Linked DNA regions of Homo sapiens: region 1 is linked to region 2. Evidence: fine-mapped expression QTL. A gene starts in region 2. The other region holds a variant in brackets. All regions are shown on one strand. Distances are from middle to middle. Region 1 overlaps KCNQ1 (potassium voltage-gated channel subfamily Q member 1). Region 2 holds the start of KCNQ1OT1 (KCNQ1 opposite strand/antisense transcript 1).

What was found.
Region 1: its variant is fine-mapped to the expression of KCNQ1OT1 in pancreas (GTEx, PIP 0.99).

Annotation. Positions count from the first base shown.
Region 1 is chr11:2,721,951-2,737,229 of GRCh38, forward strand. All of the region lies in intron 11 of KCNQ1 (potassium voltage-gated channel subfamily Q member 1), which reads left to right. Among named protein-coding and RNA genes, the nearest start is that of KCNQ1OT1, 30 kb to the left of the region's middle. RefSeq lists enhancers at 981-1,881, 1,882-2,781, 2,957-3,952, 9,798-9,967, 12,735-13,236 and 1 more and a cis regulatory region at 14,838. The variant A/T (reference allele first, on the strand shown) is at 8,950.
Region 2 is chr11:2,692,605-2,707,883 of GRCh38, forward strand. KCNQ1OT1 (KCNQ1 opposite strand/antisense transcript 1) reads right to left here and starts at 7,390. Exons shown (of 1, transcript NR_002728.4): 1 at 1-7,390. The region is part of intron 11 of KCNQ1 (potassium voltage-gated channel subfamily Q member 1); the gene reads left to right. RefSeq lists enhancers at 267-1,134, 7,591-8,830 and silencers at 7,524-7,793, 7,804-7,873.

The sequences.
Region 1 (15,279 bases), 29 kb after region 2:
TACCCTCACCCCAAGCCCAAGGAGCCTGTCCCTACGCACACCCCCTGCCCCTGGGAGGCACATGCCGAGCTTTCCTGTCCTCCATTTGGTGGCCGCCTCACCTCCATGGGGTCGCAGGGCCCACACAGACAGCCTACTATGGTCCTGGCAGGCACAGGGTATGGGAAGCCCTGTGCCCCTGGGATCAAGCTTGGATCCTGAGGTCCTGAGCTTGGTGAGTCAGGGCTGGGGAGCCACAAAGCCAGCATGCTCCTGCCTTTTGGGGGTCCCAGGTGATGTGTCATCTTACCAGGTGTTGACAGGTGGAGAGAGGTAGGCTGGGTGAAGATAGGAAAGGACTATGGGAGGCCAGGGCGGGCCTCGGGTGCATGCCTCTCTGTGGCAGTGACATTTGTACAGAACGAGGCAAGGCCAGCCCATCCTGGGAGCTGAGTGCTGGACCATGGGGGCTGCAGCCTGGAACTGAGCCCAGAGACTGCAGCATTCAGAGGTCAGGGATCAAGGAGGACCTCACAAAGGAGATCGGGAAGGTGGAGGCTTGGTCACCCCCAGGAGGAGCTTTTTCTAAGGAAGGAGAGGCCAGCATGTCAGCCACGGCTGGTGGGTCCCACTGAAGCTGAGAATAGAACTGGCAGTGGGGTTTGGCCACATGGAGGTCCTAGGGGAGCTGATGAGAGCGATGCCGTAGCCAGGGTCGGCAGTGGCGGACCGAGAGTGCTTCCCTTCTCACGTGGTTGGGAGTCATGACCTGTTTAGTAAATAGGCTATGGCAGCCTCTTGGAACTTAGTGAGGTGGCTAAGCTGCCCCTAGATAGCTGTGCCCTGTGACCAAGACCCTTCCTCCCTCCTTCCCTCTACCCCACCAGGCTCAGCCAACTGACACCAGGGCCCTGTGAGGCAGTATCTGAGCCACCCTTCTGAGTGGGAGCTATGGCAAGTGCTGCCTTAGCGGAGTGGGGGTGGGGGCATGTGTCACTCCCAGGACCAACTGGCAGATGAAGGTCTTTGGGCACTGCAGCTGCCACCTGGGGTGCCTCGGGGCAGGCTCACCTCACACCCTTGTGGGCCAGCTGCGGCCCAAAAGCCTCCTGGCCTCCATTCCCGTGCCAGGGTGGTCTGAGCGGAGAGGACAGGGGGGATCCCAGACGGATCCTGAAAACAGGCTCCGCCTTCCTCTGTGGCTCTGCCTTCCTCTTGGCTCCGCCTTCCTCCGTGGTGGCCTGAGAGGGGTGTGGTGCTGCTTGTCCGTGGTGCTCCACACACCTGCCACAGCTGCTTACCCCACTCCCTGCCGCCCTGGACAAGGTGCCCACGGCCCTGTCCCATTTACCGTTGGGGCAAGTGAGGGACGAGGAGGCTCCGCAGCCTCCCCCGGGACACTGCAACCCTCAAGACTCCTAGCAAGCCCCTCCGTCTCAGAGCCTTGGTGTCCCCATCTGTAAAGTGGGATGTGACAATACCCTTCTTGCTGAATGGGCAGGGAGAGAGGAGCTGTTAGGTGAGACCAGGTGGTACTTGGCAGCTGTGGCACGTGGAAGCCCTACACAGGCAGCCCCACACCTGGTCCGCTGTTCTGTCCTTACTGTAGCAGTGGGCCTGGAGGCAGTGGCATTTAGAGAGGACCCTGAAGTCCAAAGAGGGGATGCCAGCCTCAAACTCAGCAGCTCGAAGTAGCAACAGCCTCGAATCCCTCACACCTAGCGGTTGGCTGGGCAGGTGGACTGGTCCGAGCTGAGTGGTCTAGGATGGCCTTGCTCCCGGAGAAGACCCTTGGCAGACAGCCTCTCCTCTACTAGCTAGTGGGGCCTCACTAACCGCTGGTGGCCGCAGGGTTCCCAGCCACTCGGTGCACATGTACTCCAGCCTCTCTGTGTCCCATTTGCTCATGACATGGTGGTCAAAGCAAGTCACGGATTCCAGGGGGACCTCGGGACGAGGAAGTCACACGTTGGGGGATGTGCCGCAGGGATGGGGCATCTCAGCCTTTGTATCTGCCGTGGGCGTGGAGGCATTTACTCTTTTCACCGGGGGAGCAGAAATCAGAACATGGCTCTCTGTGTCTGACACAGAGCCCTGTACTCCATCTATGCAGCCCCCACCACCTCTGCACACAGCCCCTCCGGTGGTGCCTGGGGGCCCAGGCTTTTGATAGAGAATCACATCTGGACCAGGACGTTCTGGTAAGATCGCCAGGGGGCCGCGACAAGGAGACCAGGAAGGAAAGACAGAAAGAAAAACACGCACAGATCCAGGCTCAGATGATATACAGTCCTCCTCCCGGCTCAGGACCCCTTTGCGGTGTCACCTTTCGGCATGTAACCACTTATTCTGTCAGGGAGGAGAGCCCTCCCGCTCCACCAGGTGACGGCCCTAAATCCTCAGGAGTGACAGCGTCCTCCCGCCCGGATTGGGTTTCTGCACAGTGGAATGGAGCTGGCAGCCAGGGTCCCTGTCCCGCCAGCCCTAGGCCTCGAACCCTCCCTGGCAAGCTAACACTGCCCTTGGAGGAAGGAGGGTGGGAGGGCAAAGAGAGAGAAGTGGTGGGTGGCAGCGAGCAGGCTGTCCTGCAAGGCCGTGGCTGCACTGAGGGCAGAAGGGGCCTTGTCACCTAGGAAGGACCCCACTAGGAACCCCTTCCCGCGGAAACACAGCTTCTCCCCTTGGGTGCCATTGCAGCTGCACCCAAGCCTTGCCCTTCCCTCTCACTTCGCTCCCCAGGAGGCGACACTGTGATTGTCCTGGGCTCACAGAGGAGGACGTGGGGACCTGCCCAAGGAGACACAGGCAACAGAACCAGGGCTCAGAGTTGGGGGAAGGGGCCAGTTCACCCACAGAGGGTGGAGTCACTGGGCTGAAGCTTCTGGCCATCGTATGGAGCTGGAACAAGGCACTGGAAGGTACCAGGCCTCAGCGTTCTCAACTGTGAAATGGGAACACGGTGGTCTCTGTCACAGGGTAGAGATGACTGATCCAGTAACCTGGACAGGGTGCCGAGGGCAGGGTCTGGTGTGGCTATCAGGAGCCACTGGATTGGAACTTGGTGTGCCACCAGGGTCCCTGTCCGTTTAAGAAAAGCCTGTGGGCCCAATAGAGAAGCACAGGGTCTGAGAAGCATCAGACAATGACTCCTAAACAAGCTCACGTCTTGAAGCAGTGCTGGACCCGTTTCAGCTCCAGGGGAGAGCCAGGGCAGGGTGGGGCAGGCACGGATTCCTGACGTGGAGACAGGAGGAAGCCGACGGCCATCTGTGCTCAGACCCAGTGGTGAGCCTAAGACAAGTTCCCAGAATCCATCCGGGACAGACGGCTGGACTTGTGAAACACTCCAGGGTCGGGGGCTCAGCCACGGGACCAGCGCTTGCCAGAAATGTTCCCAGCTTTTTTGAGTTCGTGAGTGGCTGGTGGATACTTAGTGGTTTGGCTTTCGGGTTCCTGCCTTCCAAAACAGGAGAGGCAACTTGGCCTGCTTTTTCCTCAGAAGAGCCCACTTTTTGCGTGGAGGTGACCTGCCATTTGTCCGGTTGGGGGTCCCCAATCGTCTTCGAGCTACTGATATAGAACCTCTGCGTTTAGCTGTGGTTTAGGAAGTGCATTCACGTGAAGTCGCCAAGTTCAAAGGGCTGCCCCTGGAACCCAAGTCAGACTTGCCCTCGCCCCCTTCCCGAACGTACCCTTTCCATGAGGCTGGGCGCCCTGCCCTGCCTTCAGTGCCAAAGCCCCAGGCCCACAGGCTGTGCACTCCAGCCGAGGGCAGCCTGGGGAAGGTACGAGAGATCACTGGGCTTTGTGAAACCTGTCAGCTTGTGTGAAAGCTATCTCCCCCAGGCCCCACCCCCGCCCCCACCCAAAGCACAGGTCACCTGCCTGGTTAATCATCCTGGGCTCTGAGAGCTCCCTGGGGCCCCACAGGCCAAGCGTTTTCTGACTTGGAGAGGCAGGAGGCCAACTCCCCGCTCCTCAGATTCTGCTGAACTAACTGAAACCCTAACCTTCGGGCTTCCCCACTAATTTGTGATAAGGCCTCGCCAAGAAAAACAGCAGGCTAAAGACCCCTGATTTCTTCATGAATTCCAGAGCACTTGGTTCACTCCGGCAGAGAAGGGGCCCCAGGCAGCCATGCATACAGAGCCACCTCTGCGTGGGTGAAGGGCTGGGGACGGCCTCTTGGGAGCCCACTAAGGAGGACCACCTGCCTGCTCCAGGCAGATTGCTTCCAGCTGGCCAGGGCAGAGGAGCAGGCCAAGGGTGGGTCCCGGGCAGTGGCCCAGAGAAGCTGAGCTCGCTCACGAGATGTGTGCTGACGTGGCAAGATGGGCGGGAGTCTTCATGAAGGAGTGGCTGCCTGGCCCCCTGACCTGAGGATCCTAGGGCCCCTGGATGGGTTTGGGGGAACTGCAGCATCCTCAGATCACAGACGGTGTGTCGAGTGAGGGTGGTGCTCTTCCTGGGCCAGCAGTAGGTTTCCAAAAGGGCACAGACACAGCTCAGGAGATGGATGCTGCCCTGTCAGAGTGGGGAAACTGAGGCCCCAGGCGGAGACACCACCCACTGCAGGTTCCAGCCGTCCCCCACCCCACCCCTGCCCCACCATGGCTGATGTGAGGGAGGTGGCCAGAAGTCCAGAGGGACACTGGGTGGGACCCCGGTGAAGATCTGGTGGACTGAGGCCAGAGAAAAAGGGGATGACCCATTCCTAGCAGGGAGGAATAGTAGTTTATATTTTCCCCCAAAATTTTATTTTTCTGCATTGGCCTGAATAGGAGCTGACTTTAATACGGGGGAAATAGTGATTTTAAAGCCGGCTTTCCCATGGAATGTGCTTCTCCTGTGACTGTGCCCATCTCCTCACTGCTTGGCAGAGAGGTATCCCCCGTGCCCCACTGGCATGGGCGCCAGGTCTGCCCTTCCAGAGGCCCCTCCCAAGTAGCTCCCAGCAGAACACTTGAAGCCCAAAAGCAGTGAGAAAGGGAACACATTTGCCTCCAATCCTGACTCTCCAAGCCCTGTCCCTGCCCCCAGGTGAAGGGTTGGCCCTGGGCATGGAGGTCGGCAGCAGGGAGGGGACACTTAAGCCACTTGGTTGGGGGTTTGTGCTATGCCCTTTCCTCTGCCCTGTTAGGTTTGCTTCTACCTCTTAGGTCCTGTGATATATCTGCCCCTGTAGGAGCGAGACAGACATAAGCCAGATTTCAGGAAGGAGCAGCCATGGGGCAGTGGGGCTCTGGAGCAACAGAGGCCTCAAAAGCTCAGCGTCTACAGATGTTAGGGACAAGGAGGCAGCTTGGGGGATGTGCTCAGGCCCTGGAGGCAGACACATCAGGGTCTGAATCCCAGCTCAGGGGCCCAGGGCAGCTCAAGCCCTCTCTGAGGTTCTGTTTCTTCATCTGTAAAACAGGGACAATCACGGTAGCTACGTGTGGGGCGCAGGACGGCACCCAAGGATCATTCCTGTGTGAGTCAGGTGTCAGGGACCACCAGGCCTTGTGCAGGAACATGGGGTAGTGTCCCTGGGGGAAATCCTACCCCAGACTCGAGGAATAAAGAGGAGGAGGAGGTTGCCTGAGCTTAACAGAATGATGGCTGTCTGACATGAGGCTCACAACTGGCCCCAGCAGCTCCACGGCAGGGAGCAGGAGCAGACACCCCGGATCCGCTCTCCTCCCTCCTTGCCTCCTGCCAGGGGTCCAGTTGGCTAGACCCAATCTGAAGCCCTGGGCCAGGAGCTTGTGGACATAACCTGCAGAGATCAGCCTCCTAGGGCAGAGTGAGCTGAATGGAGAAGGGCTGTATGCAGAAGGGCGAGCAGACAGAGCCCAGGATTCCACAACGGTGTCGATGTACAACACCAAGCACCTGGCCTGGTGTGGGCTCGTCTTGCACTATGAAGGGGCAGGGACGTGGCCAGGCATTCGTTCCTCTGTGGGCACTGTGGGGCTTTGCTGTGGAGGCAGAGGGAGCATCTGATGGCCCCCGGGGCCGCGCTAGTCAAAGCGCTTCATTTCCATCATATGTGGTGCAAAATCTAACCCTCTTACCCTGCGTGAGGTTCATGTGACCGCTCCCGCTCACCTCCCAGCCTCATTGCCTCCCTGTTCCCCTCCTCCCTCCCCAGCCACTCTGGCCTTCTCCTCGTCCTTCAGCTCCTTCCAGAGTGTTCTTGCCCAGGGCCTTTGCACAAATCCCTTCCAGGACTTCCGATGGTTCTGTCCTCCCCTCACACAGGCCTCACCTCTTTTGCCCCCTCCACCTCTGGAGCGGCCACTCGCCCACCCTTCTGCCCTGACTTCTCTGTGGCTTCCCAAGGCTCTTCCTGGCACCTCGTAGGGTAAGTCCGACCCCAGGTGGCTGTGCTCTGAGGCCAGGGCCAGGACTCTTGTTCACAGTGCTATGCCTGACCCGGCGCCAGCCCTCAGGGGACCACAGCCGGCTGAACGCCAACTGGTTAGCTGCTTTTTCTATAGGACCTACCGAGCGTTTGACTCTAGAACCGGGGGTTGGTGCTTGGTGACAAGAGCTAGGCTGGCTTCCTACTAATTCTGCAGCCTCTGGCTTGCTAGCCTCCCGCCCACTAGGGTCCAGGTCACTTCCTCTAGGAGATTCTAAAACACTCTGGCACAGCCCACCAGCAGAGCCGGGCCTTGGGAGCGTGAGGGCACGGGGCCTGAGCCTACTGCATCCTCCCAGAAGCTGGCCTACAGGACGGAGGCTCAGGGTGGCCAGTTGGGCATGGGGTTCTGCTGGCCCAGAGTGCCAGGGGGACAGGAAGTCCCTGAGGGCTCCAGCTGCAGGAGGAGCATCTCAGGAGGAGCTGAGGCCGGAGCAGAGCGTCCTCCTGGTCCTGGCAGCCCTTGGCCCCTCAGCACCCCAGAGGGCCGGCCGCAGTGGATGCTGCTGAACCACCAGAAACTTAATCTATTATTACACAGAAACTTCTGTGCAGTCAGGGGTTTGAAGTCCCCAGAAGTGTTTGCCTGATTTGGGGCAGATAGCGGGGTGATTAATGCTCGTGATAAGGTGTTGATTGGTTCTGGGAGCCACTGCAGACACAGGGGCTGTTGTGCATGCAGGGCTGGCAACTGTAGTCACAGAACAATAGCCCGTTTATGTAGCACACTCCCACCCCCCGCCTGCCCCAGGCGGGCACAAAGGGCGCTCGGGCCAGGAACCCATGAGCTGGGCTCTCCCGGGGCCGAGGGTCCAGACCTGTTGCCGAGAAGCTGCTTAGCAAGGCCTAGGGGCAAGGGCTGGTCTGGCCTAGCTCTTTCTCCCTTGAGCCCCCTGCCACAGGGCTAAGGCCATGCTGCGGGCTCGAGTGACTGCCCTGGACGTGACAAATCTCTGTGCCTCGGTGCCCACACCTATACAATGGGGGTAATAAAGTCCCCACATTGTAGCACTGCCAGGTGGATTAAATGAAAGAAGATAGTGAAGTCCTTAAAGTGAGATGTGTTGGCATTTACTCCACAAATACTGAATGCCTGCTCCAGGTGCCAGGGACAGCAGTGACAATACAAAACTGATACGAAATTCCAAAGGGATGTCCACCAATGGGAGACGTATAAGGGCTCTGCATCCATGGATTCAACCAACTGTGGATGGAAAATGTTTGGAAAGAAAGTTGCATCTGTGCTGAACATCTGAACTTGTACAGGCTTTTTGTCTTGTCGTTATTCCCTAAACAATAGAGTGGGTCACGCAGCATTTGTGTTGTTAGGTATCGTAAGTGGTCTGGAGATGGGAGGATGTATGTGGCCTCCATGTCAGTATCACACCATTTCGTATCGGGGGCTTGAGTACCTGTGGATTTGGGTACCTGCGGGAGGTCCCCATGGGTGCTGAGGGACAGCTGCACTTTAGTATTTATCTACAGAGTGCTTGGAAGGGAAAACAAAGACAGGCAGGGCTGGTTTGGGGAAGGGGCCTGTTGTGGATGGGGTCGTGGAGGACCTTACAGTGTCCCCAAAGCGAGGTGAATCTCATGGTGTCAGGGCTAAGAGCATTGTGGAGAGAGGGTACAGCCACAGCAAAGGCCCTGAAGTGGGGATGGGCCCACAGGCTGGCAGGACAGCAAGGAGACCCATGTGCTGGGACCCCGAGAGCTAGGACACGTGAAGCCCTGGCTGGCCCCGAGTGCGGTGTGGTTGGCGCAGATGGCAACAGGGTCACTCTGGCTGCAGAGCCAAGAATGGACCACTGAGGGGCTGGGACAGACCTGGCAGACCAGGAGGGAGGCCACTGCACTAGTCCAGGCGGAGGATGGCAGCTGGACCAGGAGGGCGAGGAGGAAGTAGTAGATTCAGGACTGTTTTGAGAGGGACCATTTTAGCTTCTTACGGCTGCTGTAATGAATTCCCACAAACTTAGTGGCTTTAAGTGACACGTTTATTATCTAACAGCTCTGGAGGTCAGATGTCCGACATGGGCTACATTCAAGGAGCCAGCAGAGCTGGTTCCCACTGGAAGCTCAAAGGGAGGCCCCACCTCCCTTGGCTTGTGGCCTTTCCCCACGGCCCCCTTGTCTCTGCTTCTGTCCTGCGCTCTTCACAACCTCCCTTCCTCCCTCTTTCTCTTATGGGGAGTGCAGGGGTGATCTGGAGGAGCCGGTCAATAGCAGCGTGGTGGGGTCTGGCAGAGACAGACTGCAGGGGGCCTGGGAGGCCCCAGGAGGCAGGTGGACTTTGTCCCTAGGCATCCAGTGCAGAGGTGAGACCTGTATGGCCACAGAGTCTCCCTATCCAGGCCCCATTACCCTGGGGGAGGCGGATTATGGTATGAACTGCTGCAGGTGGTCCAAGAGGGGCTGCCCCTGGGAGACGCAGGGTTCTTCAGTAATGGTGGTTTCGAAGGGCAGAGGAGGGAAGAATGGAGGGATGGGGGACAGACGCTGGAGCCGTTTTGGTGGCAGGCCTCTGTGGCTGTGGCCAGAAGCAGGGCTGGGCACCAGGCCAG[A/T]TGGACCAGAGGCTGCCCCCAGCTGAACCAACTACAGAAATGAGAGCCCCGGCCCAGCCTCCTCCCAGCCGCCGCTCTCTGGGAGCCCAGCTTTGCTCATAGAAAAGGAAGGCCCTTGTTGCCCTGCATTGGGAGCAAACACTTCCTTTGGCCTCACAGCTCAACCTTGGACCCAAAGGTCCTCAGGGACCTGGGGGAAAGAGAGGGCAGCCAGGCACCTCTGTTCACGGCAGGGGCTGCGTTGCCCAGCCTGGCAGAGGGAGGCAGCCCCTAGGTACAGTCCCCTGTGCCCACTCGAGGGGGTGCTGAATTCCTCAAGGCCTGAGTCAGACCTGGTGCAGCTTCATAAAGCCAAGGGTGGCAGGCGGAATCCAAGGGGCCTCACCGCCCATGCACCCCACTGTTGCATGGAGAGAACAATGCCCAAATGCCCTCGTCCCACAGTCGGCATGCCAGACCCCTCGGGAATTCAGGCCTTGGTGAGTCTGGCACATTCCGGCTGTGTGTCAGCGGGAGAGGCCTGGGAAAGGGAGCCAGCACTGCAGGCCGCCCACCACACGCCCACTCGGGCACCGGACACAGGGAAGGCGGACACCCAGGGCGGCCATCTCTCGGGACAGGAGGTGCGGCTCCAGGTTCTCACCCAGGAGAGGGCTTTCCTCCCATGTCAGAGTCCCCTTCGCTGCTTGAGGCAAGCCCTCCGGAACAGACCCATCTTTTGGGGGACCCTGTGGTCATGGAGATCAGGTTCCTAGAATCACCCCCAGCAGCGCACACAGGAGGGCCTGAGGCCCAGAGAAAGGCGCCTGAAGCAAGGGAGGGGAGGGCTGGTCCAGAGTCCCTGTCCCCTCTGCCAGCCACCCAGGAGGCTCCTATGGCCCCATCTCCCAGCTCTTCCGGGTGGAAGACAGTGGTGGGTAACTCACTCAGCTAGAGCGTCTGATCACACCACTGCAGCGGCTGCTCACAGCCTTCACCATCAGGACCACAATTCTGAGGGCCCTTTGGATGAAGCCATCTCACAGAGCTGTCTCCTGCAGAGAGGAGAGGAGAGGGAGGCCGCCTTGCCAGCAGGGGACCAGCGAGGTGTGGCCTGCAAGCCGTGGGCTCCTGTGTTCCTTCCTCCCCCTTCAGAGGAATGGGAGGAAACCAGGCTTGAGTTCCTGATTTTTGCCCTTTAGGGTTTTTAAATTGTGGGAGAGCCAGGAGTGCCTGCGTGGTGGCCTCTGTCGACTCCATTTGCTCTGAAGCGGGGCTGCGGCCAGGCAGTGCCTCTCAGCCTTCTGTTTGGTGGGTGAGGACGATGCTTGGTCTTGCCTCAGGAGCATTGCTGGCACCTCTCATGTGCTCCTGGGCCTCTCCCCAACCCTCACCTTGGCATCCCCCAATATCCAAACAATAGTCCACAAAACAAGCTGCCCCGTGGGCACTGCGAAGACCCTCGGGGCCAGAGCCACTCCCTCAGGGTGCTGAGGCCACCAGCTGGGGCCTCCTCTTTCCACACTATTCCTGACGCCTGGGCTGGGCAGGGGACTCCTGGCTTCGTTTCTTCCCTCGCCTTTGCTGGGCCATCTTTCAGACCTTGCCTGGTACCTTCTCTCCCCGTGCCAAGGCCTGGAGGTGATGTGGATGCAGCCGGGCAGTGAGGAGCGCAGGCGAATGTTACAGCAGGCGCGAGCGAAGGGGCCCGAGGCACCGGTGCTTCCGACGGGGCCCGAGGGCCGTCTGACCTTTCCGGCCACGGGGCAGCAGTTGCGTGAGCAGGAACAATCGCCCCAGTGTGCAAGGCACAAGCGGCCTTTTCTTCCTCACCGGGCCGGCGCACACAGCTCCCAGCCTGGCTTCCCTTGAACAAACATATTTATTGTGGCCGCCACCGAGGCCTCGCCTTGCAGCCGGAGCCTGGGGGCCTCTGTCCCACCCACTGGGGCCCAGGGAGGGGACCCCTGCCCTGGCGGTCTCCCCTGCCCCATGGGCCCCAGCCCCATCTTGCCTGAGGCAGGGGTGGCTCTGGTCCCACCCACCCTCTGGAGGCCCAGAAACTCGAGGCTCCTGCTGGGGGCTGGTGACCACCCACAGGCAGCAAGCCAGCCAGGGTCCTGGGAAGAGGGGGTCTGGGACACAGCCACACCTGAGCCCATCCTCCACCTGGAGCCAGCCCCTTACCTTCTGGAGCCTCAGTTTCCCCCTCTGTAAAATAGGAGGCATCACCCAGCCTTGCACGTCTCCAGTGTCCCTCAGAACGGCTCTGGCCCCGCAGCTGGGGTCTGAAGAGCAGAGCCCTGAGCTCTGAGATCCACTCCCACCCCCACCCCCACCCCCAGGCCTCTCTCTGCCTTCCCTAGTGCTCCTTTGTGTGTCCAGAGGGAAGGGGCATCCTCCATCAGCACTGACCCCACTCAGGCCTCTCAGCTGCACTCAACACAGGGGCTCCCCACACTCGCCCTCCTTCACTGCGACCCCGACCCTCACTTTCCCACAAACCCTCAGTCTCCTTTGCTCAGCTTCCTTCCAGACAGGCTGGCCCAGGCCCTCCCCACGGCTTGGCTTCCCTGGGCGGTGTCAGGCAGGGACAGCAGCCATAGGTGGTACCCCTAGTGAGGGGGACTCATTCTAGTTGCAAAGATACAGGTAGAGCATAGGGACCCCAAAGAGTAGCAGGGGACCCCCGAGGTTGCTGCTGGCAGCTCCTAGGGAGACAGTCGGGCACGGTGGGCACCTTGAGAGGAAGAACAGCCAGGCCTGGGCAGCCCTGGGGGAGGAGCCAGGCCAAGTGTGCTGCCCTCTTGGCCTCAGATCTGAAGCTATAGAGCCTCCTGGAGGGCAGAGGCAGTGGAGAGGGGTCTAGCGGGCAGGAGGGGGACTTCAGGCCTTCCACACACACACACACACACACACACACACACACACACACACTCTCTCACTCTCTCTCTCTCTCTCTCTCTCTCTCTCTCTCTCCCCCCCCACTTCAGGGCCTTCGCGCCCGCTGTTCCCCTGCCCTGCCAGGCGCACCACCCCCGAAACATGCACACGCTCTCCTCTTCCCTGCTTAATCCTCTTGAGTCTTCAGGCCTCAACCCACGCTTCCCCTGAACATCCTCCTCAGAGCAGTTGCGCGCTCTAAATCAGGACCACCTTGCGGTTCTCCCAGCCCCAGCCTTGCCTTTCTAGTGGTTCTGGCCTCTGATCACAGGCACAGTTTCAAGCTTGTCTAGCACTGGCAGGGGTGGTCCTGCTCCGGCCCCAGGGCCCGCAGGTGTGTGTGAGAGGTGCATGGTGGACGTCCAAAGAATAAACGAATGAACCATCCAAAGCACAGGCCAGAGGCAGATTGGGAGGGTCAGGTCCTAAGAGGCCTCAGGCCGGAGCCCAGCTGCAGAGCAGGGCAGGGGTGGCCAAAAGGCGCCTAGAAGGCTGGACTTTCCGTGAGGTGGCGGGGAGCACCAAGGGTAGAGGCAGGGGAGCAATGGATGGGTTGAATGAGGAAGCTTCACAGCCCCCCGGCCACCGCAGGTCGGGGGAGCACTGTCCCCGGGGCCCCGCAGCCAGCTGTGCTGGGCAAGGCAGGACGGGATCCTTGGTGATGGGCAGAATGTGGGGAGCAGGGTAGGACGGGCCCCTTGGCTGAGAGCCAGATGTGGGGAGCGGGGCTGTCGAGGCTGATCTCAGGATGCTTGCTGCGGCTGCTGGGTGGGGGATAACAGGGGTTTTCCGAGGCCCTGAAGGACTGGAGAGTAGGAGCAGGTCTCGGGGGTAGCTTCCTGAAGAGATGAGTCAGGTCCCAGGCACATTCAGTGCCAGCCAGGGAGGTGAGAGGTAATCCTGGAAGCTGCTATGTAGACAGAAGCGAGGGCAAGACCACCGCTCCTCCGCCATAAACCGTGTTGGATGGGCCTCCTGCCTCCTCCAGCCTCAGTTTCCCCCACTGTGAAATAGGGATGACCTCCTGTGCTGGGGCCTGGCTGTGGCTTCCCAGGCCCCGGCTGGGACCACCGCAGAGGTGATGTCTCCAGGAGGCTTCTGGGCCAGCAGCATGTTCCAGTGCGACACATGTGCCCCGGAGTGGCCGCGTGCCCAGCCGGCTGTGCACGCTGCCCCAGGCTGGTGGGGTAAGCGCCTCGGAGGGCACACTAACAAGAGGCACATGTGCCAGGGAAGCCCTGCCTTGTCATCACCTGTGCCGTGGCTGTCAGCGCGCATCTGGCTTACATTGAACTCCCCCATAAAACGTGTGAAACCTGACAGCAGCGCCGCAGCAGGACAGGGAGGGACTGTGTGTGAGAGCCAGGGAAGGGCTGCTCAGGGGGCTCTCCTTGATGGTGACCCCCTATGAGACGCCACTTGCCCTGAGGCCCTGGGGGACAGCCTGGCCCCTGGATGGCCAGAGATGCCTGGGGCCCTGGGGTGGGAGGTGGGGACAGGCTAATGGCAATTGAGGCCCTGCCCGGTGGAGGGTGGGCCATGGCCGCCCCCACCTCCCCTCCCGCAAGCTTCTCCCCTTCCTTCAGAGCCCAACCACTGCTTGCTCCTTCCCACCCCTCCTAGGCCAGGGATGCCTGAAGCCACACTCCACTGCATTCAGCCACCGTCCTGAAGTGCCCCTCACCCACCCATCCACACCCCGCAGGCATCCTAGGGCCTGGCCCACCACCCTCTCCCTCCTCACCATTTTCTGTTGAGCACACTTGAGGAGCACTTGGAGGAGCTGGGGGATGACATGAGTCCACTCCGCTGTCACCACCAAGACCACAGTGGGGCAGTTTAAACAGCAGGCATTCATCCCCTCACAGCCCTGGAGGCTGGAGTCCAAGGTCAAGGTGCTGCAGGGCTGGGTCCTCCTGCAGCCTCTCTCCGTGGCTTGTAGACATCACCTTCCCCGGTGTTCTCATGGGGCCATCCCTCTGTGTGTGCCCGAGTCACCTTCTCCTCTCATAAGGACCCCAGTCAGGTGGGATTAGGGCTCACCCTTATACCCCCATTCTGCTTTAATTACTTCTTATAAGACCCCATCTCCAGACACACAGTCACAGTCAGAGGCAGGAGGAGGTGGGTGAGAGGACCCCACGCCCTTCCTCCAGTGTGTCTGGAGCCCCTTCCCTGTGTACAAAGGGACAGAGAAGCGAGGGGGCTCCTTGGCCCTCCAGTATGTGTGTGCAGAAGGCCCATGAGCTGCCTGGGGTTGGGGGGTGGTCCTTATACATACTTTAGATGCCAGAGGGGGCTCATTGGGCAGAACCTACCTGGGAAGGGGCCCAGGCTTCCTGCCTGCCCTTCAGTTTACCCTGTGCTCCCAAATCTGAAGGAAGCCTTTCCTAACCAGCAGTCCAGGGGATTAGAGGACTGGGACCAGTTGAAACTCCATTCTAAGTCTTGGGGACCTAATGGGATTAAAGGCGACCGAGCTTGGGCCGTATCTGGGATCTGGGGCCCACCGGGGGCTGTGAATAGTTGGAGCCCTGGAGTGCCGAGGGCCCAGGTCCCAGGCCTCTGGGGAGTCTGGATTTTTTGGAGTCTTCCTGAGACTTGTGACCAGTGGGCTTGGGAGAGCCTGAGGGGCCTCTGGGGTTAGACGGTGGCCCCCGTGCCTGGAGAGAAGGTGCACTTTGGGGATGGGAGGCGCTAGGTGCCAATGGCCCTAGGAGGGGGCTTTGGAGCTGGACCCTTGAGGGAGTCAATGCCAGCTCATCGCCATAGCGGCTTGCTTAGGGCCGTCCCTCCCACCCCCCAGTTACACAGCCTGCAAACCCCAACCTAGCCCCTTCCAGGTGTCCCTTGTGATCTTCCGCCACTGACATAGGTGTGGCCCAGAGCAAAGGGCGGCTTCCCATTTCACCTGCGCATCTGCAGCTGGTATGCGGCTGCCCTGGTGGGTTCCTGGCTGGCTGGCATGCGCCCTGCGCCTCTGCTGGGCCTGGTGGGGCCTAAGGGTGAAAACTCGGTCAAGATAAGATGCCCACGGCTCAGGGACCCCACAGTCACAGGTGGGGAGTGGCGCAGAGCCTGGGCCTGCCTCGGGCTACCCTGAAGTGCCAGCCGAGGGTGGCTGAGGAAGCCCAGTCCCGACCCCCACCGCCTGCCTTCCCAAGACATCCTGAGTGCCCCTCGCCAGCACTCCCTGCTCGGGGATCCCATTATTCCAGGAGGAGGAGCCAGGGGTACCACTTTCCATTAGTGGGTCCAGAAGAGATCCCAGCGGGAAGGGGCAGCCTTCAGGGTAGGGCAGCGGATTAGGGAGGACTCCCCCAGGAGAGGAGGAGGCAGGCAGGGAAATTCTGGGGGGAGTGTATTCCACAGGGTAAGCAGAGGCTGGATCCCGAGAGCATCTGGACT
Region 2 (15,279 bases):
TCCTGCTATACACCTGCTGTGCTCCCAGGCCTCAGCACTCCCCTCAGGGTGCAAACGGTCCTTCAACATTAGTTAGTCTTTCTCCCCTTTGTCCACTAACCCTGGGAGGGTAGGCAGGTCCCTGCTCCTATCAAATCCCTCCCTCTGGGCCAGGGTCTAGTACCTGCTGAGTGTTTGACAAATATTTCTTGAATGACTGCATCCCTAACATGAGGCAATGATCATTCCCCTGCCTGTTAGACATAATTCACTGCCTGGGAAGGCACTGTGCTGTGTAGATGCAGCAAGCTGGCTAAAATCAACTGTAGCATGGCCTATGTCCCAAGCAGGTTGTCCTGCCCATACGCTCAATAATGAGGCCCACTGAACTCTCCTGGTTTCCAGAAGCCTCATAAGCAAGCACGCTCAGTGAAGGAACAGGAAGTCCTTTCTGGAGCAGGGGGAGAGAAAGGCATCCAGTTAGCCATAGAGGGGAATGGCTCCTTACTCTTTAAGAGTCATTTGCCCCAAGACTACTTTCTGTCAATCACCAGATAGCCCTCAGTCTACACTCTGTGATCCACTCATGAATATCTGGTCTGGCTCTGCGTTCCAGTCAGACCCTTTTCTGAGAGGACCACAAGTCATAGCCCAGGGCTACCTGTACAGCTACCAGGCTTAACAACTCAGATGCACACCCTCCACAACTGCTCTTAGCACCCACAGGCCTGGGCCCTCTCTCCCTGCCCTGAAGCCAACCAGACCCTGGGTGGGGGCCGAGTCTGGCCAAGCAGCAGTGTGTGGAGCTGGGCCTGGGCCTAAGCTGGGAATAAGCTTGTTTTGCCAGGCGCTGGCCCCCCATCGAGTCCCCATTCTCTAATGCTAATTGCTACAATTAGCAGGAGAAAGGCCTTTTAGATCCATTTCTTCTCCTGGCTGAGGCCCGGGCTGCTAGGGAGGTTGAGCCCAAGGCTTTTCGGAGGAGCAGGGATTCTTCCATAAATGAGGCCACATTTAAATTGCAAACAAGAGCTTCGCCCAGCCGTAGGAAAGGCTCTGGGAGAAAGGCTTTTAGTTCCGCAGACAGAGCAGCCAGAGACTGGGTGCGCTCCAGCCTCATGGGCCTTCCTGGCTGGTGTGACTGGAACCCTGGGTTATACAGGCTCCTGCCAGTAACCTGGACATGCTGGGGCCGGCCAGTTCAGAGGAGCATGGCACAGGCTGATAAAGGCACCGGAAGGAAAGGCAGTATTAGAGGCCACCCCTTGCCCTCCCATCCAGGCCTGCTCTGAGGGAAACCCTACTCGTCCTCCTCCTGGAGTGTACTGCAAACCTGGATCCGGTATCCGCTGAGAACCACTCATTCATCAGTCTGCACTAACTGGAGAAGGTGAGCAGGCCCAGCCCGGCCTCTCTAGGCCACCTCCAACTTGGTCAAGCCACAGGTGCCCATGCCATAGATGGCTGAGGGACGGCAGCTGACACGTAGTTCCAACTAAACCTCTGGGTGGCAGCCCATAGGTTGTGGGACTGGAAGTGCTTGCCAAACAAATTATACTGCTGACCAGGGAAGAGGGTACTCTGATTGGCCAGGCCTGGGCCAGGGTCTTTCTCACCGAGGTGGTGAGGCTATAGGTGTTAGATGTGGCAGGATGCAAGCCAGGGCCTGCTGCCTTTAAAGAGCCACAGCAGAGACACCATCCCAGTCCCAAGAGCTGTTCTAAGGAAGTGGTTGTCATCTGCGGTGCCCCCCAGGGGACATATGGCAATGTCTGGAGATATTTTTGGCTATCATGACTATGGGAGAATTACTAATATCAACTAGGTAGAGACCAGGCAGGGTGCTAAACATCTTACAATATAAATGACAGCCCCTCACAACAAAGATACATCCTGTCCCAAGCATTACCAGTGTGGCTGGCTAAGAAACCCTGGTTGCAAGGGGTCAGATTTTGACATGCTATTTGCTTTCTCACTGAGTTGTGAAAATGGAGGCACACTTTCCTGGCCTGGCCTCTTCCTTCGTTCAATAAATGAATGAAACCATTCAACAGAAATCTGTGACACACCCACCATGTGCGGACCCTATACGGAAGACAGATATGCTCTCTTGGGGCCTCTCTTCCGGTGGAAGAGATAGGCAGCCAACAAATAAGTAGATGTCTAAGGAACTAGAAAAGCGTAGCCTGTGCTTTGCAGAGACTCGAAAGGTAGTCGTCAGCTAGTGAGTGACTGAAGGGGATGACAGATATGGCAGGTCAGAGCAAAATTTCCTGTGAGATTTAAATAAGAAGAAGGAATTGTCAAGGGAAGATCACCAGAAAAGACAAGCCAGGCAGAGGTGGTGAAGGCCTTGGGGCAGGAGGGATACTTGGCAGATTTAACAAAGAAGAAGAAGGCTGGCAGAGCCAAAGCTCAGTGAGGGAGGACAGTGGTCAGAGAGGTAAGCAGGGCAGATCTTGTAAAAACCTGATGGAATTTGAATTTTATTTCCTAGAAATAGAAGCCACTAGAGGGTATCTGGCAGGAGAGTCATGGAGGCACATTCATTCGTTGGTTCTTGGCTTTTGGGACTCTGCACAGAGTTGATCACAGCCCTCAGCCTATGAAACACTGTCACCCTGTAAGGGTCTGCATAAAGTCACCGCTCTCTTCCTCTCCATGCTTTTCCACTTCATCTCTAGCCTCTATCCTTGCTCTCCTCCCTACACAAACAGCTTCTCCAGGGTAATTTATTTATATCATTGTGTGTGTGTGTGTGCACTCACGAGCACTCCCTAGTACTGCGTGTCTGGGTGGTGTGTAATTTTAATTTAAATACACAGTCATGTACTGAGGCCCTCTTTCTGTTTGGCATTTGTGTCACTCAGCACTGTGTTTCCACGCGTCTCTATCTTGTGAAGTGTACATCTAGTCCCCTGCTCCTAACCACAGTGACCAGCTCCAACTGCCCACCCCTATGGGCCATGCTGCCCTGAGCATGCACACACACAGCCTCTCGTTGTTCTGGGTGAGAACTGCTCCAGCATGTTTACTTAGGAGGGAAACTGCTGGGCCACAGGTATAAAATATTTTATTTGAGGAAGAAGTGTTGGCCAGCTCTTCAGAACGTCTGTGCCTGTCTCCGTCCCCACCTGCAGCACACAGGGAGGCTTGTTCCTTGCCTTCTGCCAACACTTGGCCTTATCCTACTTTCTAATGCTTCTCCTATGAAGAATAGCTGTTGCTTTCATTTACATTTCTCTGATAACTGATTAGCTTGGGCAAATTTTCATCTGTTTGTTAACCCTCCTGCAAACTGGCAATCTTCCTACCTTTTTCTTAATGATTTGTGGTGCTTTCTGGTATATTTTAGCTGTTGTTCCCTCCTCAGCTTTAATTGTTTCAAATATCTTGTAATGAGTCATGGCAAAGTTACATTCATGAGTGTAAAAGTGAAAAACGCAAATTGTTTCCTTAGTATTATTATGAAAACAGTCTTGACCCTTGCCATGATGGATTTATTTAACAGAAATCCTTAATCCATAATCATTAATGCATTCAAGTTCATACATTTTAGTCTTGAGGTTTGTGCTTTCTGGATCCTGTTTAAGAACCCCACGGCCACCCTGGCCCTGGAGATTATTCATTTTTTCTCCTATTAAACAAATGGCAACTACCTTTTGCTTTCAAATATTTAGTCCATTTGGAGTCTACTTTTCCTAGGGGCTCAGTTAGGAATCCATATTCCTATTCCTCCATTTTAGGGCTGGCTTTCCAACATCATCTTCTGAACAGTCCCCACTGATATGTGGTGCCACCTTTATCACATGTCCCCTTCCTCTAGACTTGGAGTTACCTCTGAGCTCTCTTCTGGGCCTCTGTCACCACACCGCTCTGATTGCTGAAGTTGGCGTGTGCCCTGGTATCTGCCAGCAGAAGTCCTCTGCTCTCCTTTTCAAAAGTTCAGTTGGCATTTACAAATATTTTTCTTCCACATACATTTTAGAATATGTTTGTTAAATTACTCAAGCCCTCCAACTGGAAGTTTGAGTGGAGTCCTGTTGAACTTAACAGATTTGGAAAATCCTGACGTCATTCTAATGCCAAGTTGCCCTGTTCAAGAAAATAAAATGTCTCTGCATATGGAAAGATCTCCCTCTATATCCTCCAATAGAGTTTTAAAATTTTTTCCATAAAAGTCGTCGTCTTTGTTAATTCCTAGACTGGTATAAATTTTGCTGCTATTCTGATTGCTGTCCTAATCTCTATTATGCTTTTTTTTAGTCAGTTGCTATTGGCATAAAGAAATGTGGTTTGTTTTTGTTTTTTGTTTTGAGTACACTGATCTTATATCCAAAACCTCTCTGAAATCTGAAATCTCTCTTTAGTTGTTAAGTTCCTTAATTTTTTTTTTCCATGTAGCCCAGTAATTTTCAAAGTGTAGTCTGGGGATTCCAGAGAGCCCCCCAGACCCTTTCAGGAAAGGTCAAAAACATTTTCATAATAATACTCGACATTATTTGCCTTTTCTTTCATTCTCACAAAGATAAAGAGTTTTCCAGAGGCAGCACACCATGACCCCAGTGGAATATGTGCTTGTATAGTTCTGCTTTAAACATTTCTTAGTTTTAACTTCTAAGATGGTAACTATCAACAGATAGAATCTCTATCAAGAAAAGCCCTTTGGGGGTTTCAATAACTTTTAAGAATACAACAAGTCGTAACACCAAAATGTTTGAGAATCTTTATGGAGACCATCAACCCTATGAGCTACACTAAGTTTTATCACTTCCTACCTGATCCTCACATCCCCATTTCTTTTTCTTGTATTAGGGTATGGCCAGGATGACATCCTTGGCCTACTCCTTATCTTAAAGAGAATGATACACTTTTAATTTCTCTATCAAGTTTACTGAAAAGTTAAGTTTTGGTTTATAACTTGTATCAAGTTGAAGAAGTTCCTCTCTAGTCCTGGCTTGCTAAGTGGTGTACTCCACTACCCCAAAATCACACATAGGCGTTAAACTTTATCACATCATTTTTTTCTGCCTCTATTGAGGGAACCATATGGTTTTTCTCCTGTAGCCTCTTAATGTGAATTACATGGATAAAGTTTCTGATATTGGATCATCTTTGCATTCCTAAGAGCAATCCCACTTGTTTAAGAATTGTTGTTTAATACATATTATTGGATTCAGTTAGCTAGCATTGTACAAGGAACTTCTGCATCTACATTCATAAGGGAAATTCTTTATAGTTTTCTTGTGCTTTCTATCTGAATTTGGACATGCTCTGATTCGCAATTTTAAAAAATCCCTCTAGCTGGAGCATAAATCCTGAAACAGACCCACTTTTCTCCTCAGCATGTTAGGAAACACATTAAAATACACCCATAATCAAGCAACTCAATCCTTAAATTTTTCTCCTACTGAGTATCTGGAAAACAGGTGCAGAAATGGATCATTTGAGACACCATAGAAATCTGGTTAATCCTGCCTGCCTGCTTTCCTTCAAGTACTGACTGAGTAAGGCTGTGTATCAGGCTCTTGGCTGGGTACAGAGCAGGCAGCAGAAAACAAAACAGAGTTCCTCGTTGGGAGCTTTTGGTCTAGCAAAAGGGGCACCACAGTAAAGAAAGAACTGGTAAATGCACATCAAATGTGGATATTATCAGGAAAGTTTTTATACTTTGTGATAATCTAAGACAGAACTATTCTACCTGGATGAATTATTCTCTTTCATAACCAGAACAGTGCTGTGGGAAGGCACTCTTACTCTCAATTTTATATAAAAGGCTATTTGACCTGCTCAGGGACCACAGTGGGGTACTGGGATCTGAACATAGTGGTGGCCCTTCAAGCCTACTACCCAGACTGAGACCTGCATCTGATCAACTCTCATCTCCAATATGACCAAGAGACTTCTACCACTACCTCTCACCTGGCAGGTGATCACCACCCCCAACTCAGACTGCAACCTTTACTTCGCCCCCTAATTCCTGACTCAGAATCCCCACCTAGAGGCAGAACTTCGACTTCAATTCCTGACTCCCATACCCCACTGAGACCTCTAACCCCAATCCCAATCTCTTAACTCAGAGCCCCCCATTCAGAACCTCTACCCAAAGACAGACTCCAGACCCTGACTCCAGTCGCCAACTCGGACCTCCCTTGGATCTCAACTCAGAGCCATGATGCAGACTCCAGACCGGGATTCAGGTCCCCAACTCAGACTCCCGATCCTCTGTCCCTAATGAGGCCCTACCTAAAACCACCATGCGGACTCCAGACCCGGACTGACTGGGACCCCAACTACTCAGATCCCAACTCAGGCAAACTCCCAGCCAGGATGTGGACCCTAGACCCGAATTCTGATCCCAACTAGGATACCTAACTCAGAACCACAACGGGGATTCCCACCTCCGATCCTAATTCGGGCCCTGACTCAGAACCACTAAGTGGATTTCCGACTCCGGTCCCAATTCGGGCTTTGACTCAAAACCACAACATGGATTCCCAACTTCCATCCCAATAGCGCGGACTCAGAACCACGATGCGGATTCCAGACTCCAATCCCAATTCAGCCCACTCTGAACCACCATGAGAACTATAGACCCGGAATCCGATCCTTGGGACGCGGCCAGGAACTCGGACCTCGACCCTGGCCACGCTGTCCATAAGGTGCAGATGGGAGCGCACTGCCCAGGCCAGGCTGCACTGCTGACGCCTGTGATCTGGGACGGCCGCGGGGCACACAGCTCACCTCAGCAACGCCAGTGATCACCCGTCCCGCGCCGTCCGCCCAGGTCCGTGCTGACCGTGTTCAAACCCTCCCAGAGAGATGGGGAGGGCCGCGCTGAGGAGAGTCTGGGAGAACCGCACTGAGGAGCCGCCGGGAGAGTGCCGCGCTGAGGAGCCCCCGGGGAGAGTGCCGCGCTGAGGAGCCCCCAGGAGAGTGCCGCGCTGAGGAGGCCCAGGGAGGACCGCGCGGAGGAGAACCATGCTGAGGAGCCCCCGGGGAGAACAGAACCGCGGCGAGAGGCCCCCGGAGAGAACCGCGCCGAAGAACCCCCGGGGACAACCGCGCCGAAGAACCCCCGGGGAGAACCGCGCCGAAAAGCCCCGGGTGCCCCGAGGAGAACGGCGCCGAGGAGTCCCCGGGGAGAACTGCGCCGAGGAGCCCCCAGAAGAGCGCCGCGCTGAGGAGCCCCGAGGAGAACCGCGCCGAGGGGCGCGCCGGGGAGAACCACGATGACTGACGCACCGAGGAGGACCGCGCTGAGGGGCGCACCGGGAGAATCGTGCTGAGGAGCCCCGGGGAGGACCACGCTGAGAGGCACCCCGGCAGAATCGCGCTGAGGGGCGCCCTGGCAGGATCTTGCTGAGGAGCTCCCTGGAGGTCCGTGCTGAGGCGACGCGGCGACCGTTCTGCCTGGAGACTGCGGCAGCGCTCCGACTGCCCCCGCCGCTGCCGACGTGGCGACCGCCCCCCACCTGCTGATTGGGCGGCAGCAGGGGAAGGCTTGCGGCGGGCTGCTGCACGGATTGGCTGGGTGCGGAAAGTGATGTGCCGTGTCCTGTCATTGGCCGAAAGAGTCTCGTTTTGATGCCACCCGGGCTCAGATTGGCCCAGCGGGTCCAGCGCCGCATGAGGCACTGGCTGGGTGTGAGGTGGCGCGAGCCGCCGCCCTCCCTGCCCCCACCCGTCGTCCCTGAGCACCACCGGGGGCCGGGGCCAGCGCCAGCCTCAGCGTTGGCATCGCCGGGGTGAGCTGGAGACACGGGCCAGTTCTCTGCGTGATGTGTTCACCACCCCGGGGTGACCGCGTGAGGACAGCGGCCGCACCCCGACACTGCTGTGGGCCCTCGGTGTGGAGGCCTGTGGGCGTCCAGGCCACGCCCGAGACCAGCCCCTCCGCCGGCGCCGCTGCAGCGACCCTCGAACCCGGGCAAGGTCTCCACCGCCGTGGCACCGGGTGCGGGAGGCGTTTTCCCCCCTCCCAGCGGGTCCATGCAGGGGATCGGGATGTTCTGAAGCCCCCACTGCTGTGCCTGGAACACCCGTGTCTGCCGCTCACCCCTGAGGACTTGGGACCTCAGGGGGTGAGTGGCAGGGGTGGCCGGGACATGCCAGGCCACCCACCTGGCAAAGGGCAGCGCCGAGGGCGCCCCGCGCCTGCCAGCGCCCGGCCGGGCCCGCCCTGCCCACCTCCCATCCCCCATCCGGGCGTGACACTTGACCGCGTCTGCCGGCCCCTCCCCTTGTCCGTCCCCTCCGCGCCGCTGGCGCGCGCCTTCTGAATGCCAAGCATTGCCATAAACTCCGGGGACAAAAGCCTGGGTCACAAAAGCCCCCTCTAGAAGTTCACACCCTGAGGCTTCCCTGGCAAGGCTGGGGGCCGTTTGGCCCTTCCATGTGGACTGCAAAAACAGTGTTGGAATGCAGGACTCTGGGTATGTTCTCGAAAGTTGTTACAACCCCAACCCAGGGTTGACCTCAAACACAGGAGGAAGGGGGAGGCTGGAGCCAGCCAAGCGAGCCAGCCGTCCCCCCACCAAGGCACGCAAGGAGGCCATTCATCTTCACTGCCTCTGCCGAAAATATACGTCTACGGGAGAGCCAGGAATCTCTCTCCAAGGGTGACCGGGTTGGGGGTTTTGTTGTTCTTCAGCCCAGAAGAGAAAGAGAAAATGGTGTCATTTTTTCAGGCAGCAAGTGATTCCTTTCAGGCCTTCAGCAACGACGCCCAGATGAGTCCACTCCCTGCCTCCTGCTCAGCCCACAGGCAATCTGGGCACAAGTGACACATCCCCTGGGCGCCTGTCCCTTCGCACTGGCCCAGGGAGTTCATGTGTCTGATCAGAGGGCGCAGTCCACCCTCACTATCTAGCTGGGAAGTTTTTGTCATCTGCCTGTCCGAGAGGCAGCTGTGCAACCAGTGCCATCACTCAGAGCCAGTGCTCAGGTGCACCCCAGACTCAGGGTTTCACGCTATAATGTCACTGTCTTGAAATTCTTGATAGTTACTATCTTTGAACTTGTGTTTTAGAAGTGAAGTCTGAGGGGAAAATGGAGCTTGGAACTTCAGCTCCCAAGTGGCTTTCCCACCTTCCTGCCTCCTCAGGACAGATTATCAGCTGCCTGTCTGCCTGCTTCCTCTGTGCCCAGCCTCTCTCTTGACATCCAAAGGATCACAACTCCCACTCAGTGACCACTATTATTCTCTGCCCCTGACCAAAAAGAGCAGGGCAGGGCTGGAGTCCTGACCCTGGCCTGGACTCTGCAATGCAGAGATACCTGCAAGTCTCATTTCCCCGCCTGTAGGATGGAGGTGATGCTGACAGCCTCTTGGAGCCATTGAGATAGGAAACGAGAGAGATTATGTGAGAAGACAGGGTCAGGAATGTTGAGTTGAGGGTGGCCTCAGGCCCCTGTCCTGCTCCTTTTTGCTGCTTGGGGTGCAGCTCAATTCCAGCCTCACTGTGGCCCCCAGGCCTCCTCTGGCCTTCCTCAGCCTTCCTCAGGAGGCCAGAATCCTCCCCTGATCACCCTCCCTGCATGTCCATTTCTACCTCCCCAGGAGGTCAGGGGAGCAGGATCCCAGGTCTTCAGAGTCATTTCACAGATTTCACCAGAATAAAAGTCCCACTCATGTGGGGTTTACATTCTGGTGGGAAAGACAGATTTTCGAAACGTGGCCATTTTTCTTTGGGCCTTTGTTAGCTGCATCAGATGGAGGAGGTAGCCTGGTGGACTCCTTCAGTCCTCGCTCTTGGACACAGAGCTGTCTCCCAGCCTTTGTTGTTGTGTTCTCCAAGGATGTCGAACACAGGCTGAAAAGCTCCCTAAATCAATTTCACTTAAAATGGTGTCCACCCTCCTACTAAAGAGTGACAAAGGGTGTTGGTTAGGATTTTTATCTTGAAAACTGATTTGTAAAGTCATGAAAATTGAGCTTATTTGGTCTTACACTTAACAAAACTGTGGGTTCTAATTGTGGGCCTGGATGGGGACATATCTTACAAGTAGTTGATTCATTTATATAGATTTTCATGTTCTGGGCTTGCCTCCACCCTCTACCTAACCCTGGAACCTCAGACCCCAAGCTCCTGGGCACTTGGATTTTTCCCTGACAAATTCCCCGCCTGTGATATTCCATGGGCACCTCACCTTGTGTGCTTGTGTGAGGTCTCCTTGAGTACTCTTAGCAGTGGGGTTGCCAGGCCAAGGAGCCTGTCACTATTGTTTGTGACCAGCTCACCAGACGTGGTCAGGAAGGACAGTTCTGTGTCCTATGTCCTCTGCTCCTCACCCCCTCGCCACACACGGGGTGCCGTCAATCAGCCAGCGCCGCCTGCCAGCCCAGCGCACCTGTTGTGTGCCCCCACTCCCGCCTCCTCTAGTCCTTTGGGGGAAGAGTGGAGAGGAAAACAGGCCGAGACTGAGAGGGGTTTGTTGTCTCGTCGGGCGACAAGAGACACGTGGGAATTGGCTAGAGAAGCATGTGAGGCTGGGCGGACTCCAGGCCAGCCCCAGAGGCAGATGGGGGCTGCCAGGCAGGCTGGGAGGTGAGCCCAGGGCTGGCCTTGGGCACCATGGCAGAATTCTGGGAGGGGGCTGCAGTCACGGCCAGCTCCCTTTCTGAATTGTTCTGTGGGTTGTGGAAGGCTTTGAAATTTGGCGCCTGCACCTTGTCACCTTCTTGGGACTCAAGGCTGCAGGGGTGGGTGTGAGACAGAGAGCCTGGGCACCTGGTGGCCACTCCCTGAGCTCCCCACGTGACAGAGGGCAGGTCCCATTCTCCTTTTGTGTCTGGTTTGCCTCATCTGTACATGGTAGGGGCTGAGCTAGCGTTCCTTGCACTCCCTCCAGCTTTACTCTTTGGGGTTCAAAAGGTTCCCTTGCAAGCCTGTGCACCCGAGAGCACGCACGCACACACGCACTCACAGCTGAAGAGAATTAGGCTCAAAACGTCCACTCGGCTTTTCTCTTGATTCCAAGGTATTTAGAGTGGGGGTGGGGGATTAGGGGAGGAAGTTGCTGAGCTAATTCTTTTGCATTTGCCAGCACAGAAGTGCAGATGGGGCCCAGAGCCCCGGCGGTGTCCCAGGGGAAACACCAGTCCTCTTCTGCAGTGCAAGGCAGGAGAAAGAACTGCTGTGGGAGCCCCTCACCCAAGCAGCAGGATGTGTGGCAGGCCCTGGCCAAGGAGTTCTGTGGGCCTCAATTCTCTCCCTACCCTGCCCCCACCCTCGGAGTCTAAGGGTGGAACCATCTTCAGACCCAGCCAGGTTCCCAAGTTGCTGCTTCCCTCGGAAGCTGAGAGGCCCAGGGCCACGTGGCAGCCTCCGCAGTCCATCTGAAGAAAGGCCCCACCCCACGCTGCTCTCAGGAGTGGACAGGAACGTGGGGGAGTGGGGGTGGTTAGGACCTCAGGGTTATCCCTGAGTGGCTGATGCATTGCCAGGAAGCCTGCTCTTAAGGTCAGCCCTTGCAGTTGGCAGTCTGTGGCCCCTCCTCGGTCCCCTTCAGTGAGGCTTTTTGCATGCATTGGTCCACACACCCACCACTGCAGCTGTCCTGGGTAAGGGCTCTGTGATCCTGCAACGCCCACCTTCTTCCTTCACTGGTCATAGGTTTCTGCTGACCCTGCAGCCCATGTCCTTGTTCCAGAATCTTCCGCCTCCTGTGGCCTGTGTGTCGCCTGCACCTGCATTCCACTGGGGCTTCCCTTCCAACTTGATGGTTTCAGGTACATGGGCCTGTTGTCAACTCTGTTCCCACTGAGCCCATGAGACGGCTATTCCTTTGAGACATGTTTACTTGACTTCCTGCCCCAGGTCTCTGCTGTACCCACAGGTGGCATGGACTCATGTCCCCACCCAAATCACATCCCCACCAGGATGGGCAGGCTCTGGGTCCTTTTGGGCCTTGTAGGCTGTCGTCAGAGGGGAGGCACAGTGGGGAGTCTCTAGGAGGTTTTGGGCAAGGCAGTGCCAAGGATCAGATCTCCCTTCTAGAAAGGTCACTCTGGCTGCTGAACAGAGAGAGAACTGAAGAGAGGCAGCAGGGTGAGGGGGAAGACTACGGGGGACTTGCCGTCACCCAGTGAGAGAGATGGGAGGGTTGGAGAAAGCGAGCATCTGTGGAGGTGTGAGAAGTGCCAGGCTGGGCTCCCTCAGGCGGCAACTTTGTCTAGACTTCTGGCTGAGGACAGGGAGGAGCTTAAGGTAGCCCTCAGCATCCAACAGGGGTAGCAGCCTAGTGCATGTATGACCACGAGCGAGCCCAAGGGAAGGACGGGTTTGGAGGGTTTCTGAAGATCTGGCTTGGATATAGTGGGGTCAGACCCTATCCCTCCACCCAGCTGCAGTGACAACTCTGTGGCTCTGGGGCACTGTCACCCTGTGGCATGGCCTGTTTGTGGTGTCCATTGCCGTCTTAGCTACCCAAGGCCCAGGGAGAGGCACACGGCTCAGGCTGACAGAGTGTGACAGATGCAGGTCCTGCTCCCTCAGGGAATCCCCCATTCCAGGACAGTCTCAGCCCCCATGCAAGAGCAGCCTCAGCATGGGCTGCTCGGGGAATGCCCTCAGACAACAGTGCTGTGTTAGGGTCACTCCCAGCCTGTCCTCACAGGCAGATTTGCGTTCCTGCATTTGGGGTCAGTGATAACGTGAGGCCAGACGGGTGGGGGGTCTGGAGTTCAGGCGGTCTCCATGAGTGGCAGCACGGGGTGTGGGCCAGTTCCCATTGGGAGGGCAGCTGTGCTGTGTGTGTATATGTTTGGGCATTGCTCAGCCAAGCCTTGATTAGCCGAACCCAACTCTCCCAGAGCCCCCACTTCGACGCGGGTTAACTCAGCAGCTGTCTCCTGAGCACCTGCTTGGGGCCTGGTTGGGTGCCAGGCACGGGGGGGTGGGAAAATGAAGTGAACTGGGCCTGCCAGACCCATTGCCTGCAGGGCCTTTTCTACCACCACCTTCCAGAGGCAGCTTCCTCCCACAAAGCATCCCAAGCTCGGGGTGTGTGCCCCCCTTCCTGTGCAGGCCTGCCACTTCCACAGCTGCCCCCCAGCCAAGAACAATCCCCTCAGCCTGCCAGGGAAAAGTGGGCCCAGGCCTTTGAGGACATTGCCACAGCCAGGGCCAACCTGGGAAGTTGTTTCTGATTATCTCTTGAGTCCTGGGAGAGGTGTTAACAAAAAGCCCCATCCCTGTCGCTCTGGTGGTTATAGTTTGTTTTACGCATTAAAAGGCCCTGGATCGGTATTTGTAGTGAGAACAGATATTTGCAGAGAGCCTACTCCATTCCCAGCTCTGTACTTGTAGAGGGTGAGGCTGCTGAAATGAAACCCACCAGGCCTCTGGTGAGCAGTGGGTGCAGAGTCATTGGCAGTAAAGGTCCTTAGAGAACCTGAAGAGAATATTCTAATCAAGCTAGGCAGGCTCAGAAGATGGATGTAATTTGGAGGAAAAAGACAAGAATGGGAAAGAAAGGGAAACCTACCTGGGGTACCGTGTGGCTGTGGTGGTTTTAGTATGTGTCTACAAGGCCTTTGACAATCCGTTCTTCCGGAAGTGGCACTTAATTCCCCTCTAATTAAGTTTTGGCTGGACTGTGATTTGCTTCTTTCAAATAAAATATGGAAGAAGTGACAGAGCATGACTTCCAAGACTAGGCCTTGCAGCCTCCCTGCCCTCTCACTGGGATCACTGATTTTGGGGGAAGCCAGCCACCATGGTGTGAGGACACTAGCAGCCCTCTGGAGAGGTCCTGTGGTGAGGAACTGAGGCCTCCTATAAATGGCCTCCTGTATGAGCTTGGGAGTGGATCCTCCAGCCCCAGTCAAACCTCTGATGAGACAGCAGCCCTGGTCTACACCTTGACTGCAGCCTCACAGGAGATCAGAACCACCCAGCCAAGCCACCCCCAGATCCCTCGCCCACAGAAACCATGTGGGATGATAAATGTGGGCTGCTTTAGGAATGAAGCTGTAGGGTGACTTGTCACACAGCAAAGGCCAGCTGACAGAGCCACCCACTCTCACCAGGCTTAGTCTGACCCTTGTCAGGGGCAGCAAAGTGGGCTCAGCCTACCTGTTGGCTTTTACTGATGGTTGGTGGCTCCCAGGAGAAAGAGTACTGTGCCCAGGTAGCATGCCCACCCCAGGCATACATAGCATGTCTTTGCTCTTGCAGAGTTTGAACTCTGCCCACCAGACCAGTGGCTCTTAACCTAGGCTCCTCGTGAGAACCACTCCCCGGTGCAGGTCCCACTCCCAGAAAGGAGAGCGGTTTTGACTCCTGCAGTCTCTAAGGCAGCAGAGAGCTGTGGCATTTTGGGTGGAGTGGGTGGAGAGGGTGCGTGATGGGTGGGAGAAACTGACAGTTGGAATGTGATTTAGGAAATGTAACGGGTGACCTTTTCTCCCCAAGAGAACACCAAATCCATTTCCTTGGGACATGGATAAGGCTAAGGGCAGCACCCACAAGGACCAGGAGCGGGGTTCTCAACAGCCACTTCTGTCCCAAATTTGTTTTCTATGCCCAGGAATGTCAAAGGGCCCTCTTGGGGTCAGCCACAGAGAAGGGGGAGCAGGTGTGATGGGGTGGTGATGGGATGCTGTAGGTGGATGAGAAGTAGCACCAAAGCTCACTACTGTTTTTCTCTTATCCCTGGGTCTTGGGGACAGGCCTGTGCCAGAAGCAGGGATTGCTTCTGCTGTAACGTCCACTGGAATAAAAAGCAGACATTGCAGTGTTGAGAAATTCCTTTAGCCCTCAGGAGGCAAGTTACAGAACAGGACAGAACTGCCCTAGTCAGGCCCTGCCTGGGCACAGAGCTGCCACCACTCTTCCAAGAGCCCTCCCTTTTGGGGACTGTGCCCCCACCCCACCCCCAGGCAGCCCCTGCCTCCAACCTTACTCCTAGCTGGTGTTCTGGGCCGTCAGTTCATAGGTCCAGCTCTGAGACCTGCCAGGCTCTCAGAGCAGCCTGGACCCAGGAGAGCGATAAATGGATGTGCACTGGCACACTCCAAGCAGGGAGGCTTTGTTTATCTCCCAATTAGTCCTGTAGCACTTAGTATGTCAGGCATGGTTCTGAGGGCTTCATCCACACTACCACCCACTGTAGAGATGGGAAAACTGAGGCATAGCAAGGTCAAGGGATTGGGCAGGCCTTAGGATGTAGAAGCTACTAGAGCTGGGCTGCACCTGGGTATCCTGGAGCCAGGGTCTATCCCTCCCCCTCTGCCACACGGCCTTGGTGTGAGGGACACAGCCCCTGTTTGCAGAGGCAGCTCCTTTCATGGAG